Regions from separate parts of the Homo sapiens genome. Here region 2 is linked to region 1. A link means that fine-mapping ties the variant in region 1 to the expression of a gene that starts in the linked region. Tissue or cell type: subcutaneous fat. Region 1 holds a variant in brackets; the other region holds the start of a gene. All regions are shown on one strand. Distances are between the middles of the regions.

Region 1 (2,758 bases):
GGGGAGGAGCAGAGCTGTGCCAAAGGACCTTCATGGAGCCAGGCTAGTGAGCAGGGTAGTGAATTGCAGGGCCTGCCCTGCCAGTTCTGTTACACACTGCACCATCTCTTGGATGGCAGGGCTGGATGGGTAGCCCAGGGCAGCTCCCTTGACAGCCAGCACAGTGGCCCGCAATGCCTGGCCCAGTGCTGTACCTGCAGCCCTGACCTGTGCTCTCAGAGGGGCAGAGGCTGCCAGCCGGCCCAGGGTGTCCCCAACAAACACCAGGCGATGAGCAGCCACCACCACCCTCTTGCTGTGGGGCACGAAAAGGCGCGGGGGCTGATTAGCCTGGGTACTGGACATCAGGGCTGCCACGGCTGCCTGCAGGGCTGAGTAGTGGCTCTGGCATTGCCCAGCATAGAAGTACAGGAGCTGCAGATCTCCGGTGGACACAACCAGTGGCTCCCCTGGGGACAGGGCCTCCTGAAGGGCAAGAGGAGTGGTCAGAGAGAACATTCTCATGAGTGCCATTTCCTCCCTCACTTCTTTTCTCCTTCCTCTCTTTCTTCCCAAGGGCGATCCTTTTAGCTCTTACCTCTGCCCATCGGAAAGTTTAGATTCTAGAGAGAGCAGCAGTGAAGTGCCCACACTTGATATCAGATAGATCTGGATTCAAACAACCTCAAACTTGATTTCGGACAAGGCTTTGAACTTGGTTTCCTTAACTCTAAAACAGGGAGTCTAGGACTGCACTGTCCAATATAAACATAATGTGAACCACATGTGAAATTTTAGATGTGTTAGTAGCCACATTAAAAGTGGTTAAAAAAAAAACAAAACCCTAATATATTTTATCTAACTCCAAATATAAAAATGTTATAATTTCAACATATAATCAACATGAAAATTATTGAGATTTTTCCCATACTGAGTCTGTAAAATCCAGGCTGCATTTTATATTTGCAGCATATTTCAATTTGAACTAGGCCTATCTTGAGTGCTCAATAGCCATATGTAGCTAGTGGCTACTGTACTAGATAGTGCAGTTCTAGTATGTACCTCATGAGGCTGCAGTGAAGGTCAATTGAGATAATATACAGAAAGGGCTTAGCAAAGTGCATTTCACACTGTGAGCACCAGATGAGTGTTAACTGTGGCTGTGATTAATACTAACACGTGCAGTGTGCCTAGCACAGGGTCTGGCACTTGGTAAATACCTGATAAATGGTAGCTATTGTGTTGCGACCATTCT[A/G]CGCAGGGTTGAGGAAACCACCTCACTTTCTGAGGCCTGGAGAGATTAACTGACGGCTTCAAAGCCCCTGGCTTCTCAGTAGTGAAGCTGGGATTAGAAGCCAGGTCTCTTAGGAGCCCAGGAATTCACAGTTGGAAGGAGGCTCAGAAGTCCCCAGGCCCAGCTCTGACCCCACAACTCAGAAACTTTCTGCTCTCCTGGCTGCTTGATTTTCTGACTCCTCTCCAACACATTCTTTCCCCTCTTTCTGAATTCCTAACATCCTCTTCCAAGGTCCAGTTCCTTCCTGTAGATTTCTAACTTGCCTCCGCTCTGTCCCTGGTTCCTGTGAACTCTCACTCCATCCTAACCTATTTCCTTCCACGGTTGATGGCTCAGTTCTTCTCCCAAGTCCCCATTCCTCCCTCCCCTGTCCCCTTCTCTAGCACCATTCCCGCCAGGGTCACCTGCGGCGCCGGCATCCCCCTCTCGGGCAGTTCAGGATCCCCTGTGCAGGCCTGATCCGGGGGCCTAGATCCCTGAGCTTTGTCCATGCCCTGCAGGAGGGGATCAGGTCTCAGTGTCGGGGTGGGGGAGCAGGACGGGGTGGCCTCTGTGGCCTTTCTGCCCCTTCCCCGGACCCCCTTCCTTCCGAAGGACACTCCTGTTATCAGAGGTTGTAGTCCCTTGACTCCAGAGAGCTCTGGTGGCCCCAGGCTGGGTCTAGGAGGAACAGTGTGGCACTGGTACAAGTGTTGTGGCCAAGTACTGGGGTCCCAGGCTGCAGGGTAGAGGGAAGGGGGACAGAAGGGAGGCAGGGAGGCTCTGCCTCTGTGCCCTAGGTCTCCACACCCCTCCCCTTGGTCCCTCTGGGGTCCCTCCTGGTGGGGCTGCCAAGGGGCGCTCACCTTCAGGTGGACATAGTCATACTCCTCGGCCATCGGAATGCCCTCGTACTCATTGTGGTGTCCTGCTGGGTCATCCTCCATCTCCCTGCCCTCTGGATCCCCCTCGACCTTGGGGCCTCCATAACCAGGCAGGCGGGGTGGGGGTGGGGGCAGAGGCCGGTCCTGGATGCTGCCCTTCCGGCCTGGGGCAGGAGAGGGCACTGGGGAGGGGCTGGGGGCCTCAGGGACAGGCAGGGCAGGCAGAGGGCGGCGGGACAGGCTCTCAGCTGAGGGGAGCCGGGGCCTGTGTGGGGGTGGGGGGCTTCTGGCCAGAAGCTGGGCCAGGGTGTCCTGGTCATGGGAGGCCAAGGCTCCAGGGGGCTCTGGAGAAGGGGGAGCCTCTGGCCCCAGCAGAGGCACATCGTAGATCCCCTCATCAGTGCCCCCGCCCTCCCCGTCTGCCAGCAGTTCCTCGGGTGCTTCATACAAATTGAGTAAGGCTGACGCTCGTTTCAGGTTGGAGGGGGCAGCATAGATGGGGGGCCCCGGCTCCCGGCCTCCTTCCCACTCCAGATCTGGTTCCAGCTCTGCAGGTGGCTTTGGGGTCAGAGGCACATCATAGGGAGCATCATCCTCTCCAGGGGGCTGCGGGGCAACC
Region 2 (2,500 bases), 870 kb after region 1:
AATACTAGACCTCAAATCTTAGCTAAGAAGTAGTTTGGAAGGACTGGGGAAGAGAAGGTTAAGAATGACTATTATGTACGGTAAATATGCTAAGAAGCTGATGAAATAACGATAGATTTACTTAGCTACAAAAAGGCCAAACTAGCATTAGACTTCACTTGTCAGCAGTTTTGTTTTTTTGAGGGGGGCGTGGGGGGGGGGGTCTCTGTCTGTCTGAAGGCACAAAAGAGGAAACAGCAGATAGGACTAACGAGGGCTGGAAATTGGTGAAGAACCACCACGGGAGTTGAGAGATGCAGATGAAGGAAACCATGGCTAGTAGCAAGAACTAGGGCAGCGGTAACTAACCTGCCTCAGCCAAGGAAGTGAGGCTGGTCCAGGATGCCAGGCTCAGAAAGGCAGGTACTGACTGAACACACTCCCCGCTTTGGTTCCTGTAGGACGGGTGAGATACCACACCTTGGCAACCACCAGTAAAGGCTCATAGTCTAGCCCTTGGGAGGCCCCGATTTTAGGGCTGTGCTCGGAGGCGACCTACGTTAGGGACTGGGAGAAGCAGGTACCCTGGGAATGAAGAATGGAGAGCAGCGCTTACTCCAAGAATCTGAGAGACGGGGGAGTCAAGCCGCTGCTAGGCCTTCTCTATGACTGCGGGGGTTCGAATACAGTGAGACCCGACAAAAGCGACCCCATTCTGGGTGATAGCACAGTCCTGGCAAAAAAGCAGGCATGGCAAAATACCCCAGGGTCGTCAGGTGGGACCTGGGCCCCGCTCTCAAAGCCCTTCTGGGTCCCCCTATTTCCCACCACCCCTCGCGCGGAGCCCTGAGGCAGTCAGCGTCCTCCAGGCTAGGGAAAGGCGTGGTTTTCCTTCCCCACGTCTCCCGTAAGGCACTGCTGCCAGCCCAGTACTACTGCGTCTTGGCAAGGCTGGAGGTGCTCCCACCTTCACTTTAATTAGCATCTTCTTTCCAGTTTGGGGCTGCACACGGATAAATTGCTGCTCCTACCGCTCCGGTCGCCGCTGCCGCCCTCCAGCACTCTTGCCTGCAAGGGCCACTTCTACTTCCGGGTCACTGTCTGGCTCCACCCCCCCCCCCCCCCCCACTGGGTTCCGGAAAGGCTCAGGGTTGCTCCCGCGTTTCGGTTCAGTGACGTCGTAAATTGGAATGAGGCATCCAGTTTAGCAACAGCAGAGATGACGACTCTGCGATTCTGAGAGTCCCTGGCGAGCCCGGGCTAGCGAAAAGTGGGGGCAGAACGAACTACATCTCCCATCGTGCCAGGAGGCGGTCCCGCCCGTTTCCCCCTGGGAGTTGTAGTCTAACCCCCTCGGATCCAACAGCAACCTCAGTGCGTGAACTCTGTTATCCAGAAGGCCTCGCCCTGCCGCCGCCGAAGCTGGAATTCGTCGGCTAGTAGTTCTCGCCGGCAACTAGAGGAACCTGTTGGCGTGGCCCAGAAGGCTTAGCGGGATTGCACGAGGTTAGTTGCTAAGCAAGGTGGTCTTTGGTCAACTGCCGCCTGGACCAAGGCAACAGGAAGTGAGTACCTCTATTCCGGAAACTAGTTATGAACCCTCCCCGCCCCCCGTCGCCAACATTCCTTCGTTCCCCTAAATCAGCCTCTTGCCCCATTGCTCTTTGCAGGGGTAGAAGAAGGAAGTGTAGCGGGGTAAGGAATGCACCGTCAGGGTCTCTCACAACCCTTTCCCAGCTCTCCTCCCCAACAAACAGTACCTGGGATGGAGCCCTAGGGTAATCGCAGCCACGGGATGGGTCGAGGTGACAGGCTTCAGGGACCACACTTCGGCCTTTGCCCGACCTTCCACAACTTAAGCGAAGAGAGGCCACCAGCCGTAACAGGGCGTTAAAGCCCAGGGGAAGATTGGTCCTTATGACTTCCTGCCTTCCAGCCCTCAGATTCATCGCTACCCCGAGGCTAAGCGCCATGCCTCATATTGACAACGATGTGAAACTGGACTTCAAGGATGTCCTTTTGAGGCCCAAACGCAGTACCCTTAAGTCTCGAAGTGAGGTGAGCAAGCTTCTCTACTTGCTGTTTCTTGACCCCACGCTCCCGGTGGGCCACAACCAAGAAAGATGCCTGTCCTTGTCCTAATATGGTACGTTTTTTGGATTAATGAAATGGTCAATTTCCTGTTCATATCTGCAGGTGGATCTCACAAGATCCTTTTCATTTCGGAACTCAAAGCAGACATACTCTGGGGTTCCCATCATTGCTGCCAATATGGATACTGTGGGCACCTTTGAGATGGCCAAGGTTCTCTGTAAGGTAGGGCTTTCCTCATGCCCCATCCCTATTGGTGTCCAGTTAGCCCAGCTGACTGCAGAGGTGTTTGCATCCCCACCCCCATGCCCAGTCAGTTCTCTGGCAGTTAGCAGTCAGGATGCTCTGATTTACGGTTTTTTCCACTACTGAAGCCCTTTATCTGATAAGTTCAAAAGGCCATCTGAATTAGTGAGATTCAAAGCTAAGT

Direction of the effects. Alleles are on the strand shown, and positions count from the first base shown. SD is a standard deviation of normalised expression in the study named.
In carriers of allele G in region 1, the expression in subcutaneous fat of the gene that starts at base 1,064 in region 2 tends to be lower than with A alone (moderate effect, 0.56 SD a copy in GTEx).

The links. PIP is the estimated chance that this variant, and not a neighbour inherited with it, causes the effect.
Region 2: NEDD8 starts here. The variant in region 1 is fine-mapped to the expression of NEDD8 in subcutaneous fat (GTEx, PIP 0.98).

Annotation. Positions count from the first base shown.
Region 1 is chr14:23,357,196-23,359,953 of GRCh38, forward strand. It overlaps EFS (embryonal Fyn-associated substrate), which reads right to left. Exons shown (of 6, transcript NM_005864.4): 4 at 2,122-2,758; 5 at 1,681-1,770; 6 at 1-465. The coding sequence ends at 31. Among named protein-coding and RNA genes, the nearest start is that of SLC22A17, 5.7 kb to the left of the region's middle. The variant A/G (reference allele first, on the strand shown) is at 1,235.
Region 2 is chr14:24,231,304-24,233,803 of GRCh38, forward strand. It overlaps NEDD8 (NEDD8 ubiquitin like modifier), which reads right to left and starts at 1,064. Exons shown (of 4, transcript NM_006156.3): 1 at 947-1,064. The coding sequence starts at 964. It overlaps NEDD8-MDP1 (NEDD8-MDP1 readthrough), which reads right to left and starts at 1,064. Exons shown (of 7, transcript NM_001199823.3): 1 at 947-1,064. The coding sequence starts at 964. GMPR2 (guanosine monophosphate reductase 2) reads left to right here and starts at 1,626. Exons shown (of 10, transcript NM_001002002.3): 1 at 1,626-1,674; 2 at 1,916-2,037; 3 at 2,176-2,295. The coding sequence starts at 1,951. RefSeq lists enhancers at 928-1,793, 960-1,254.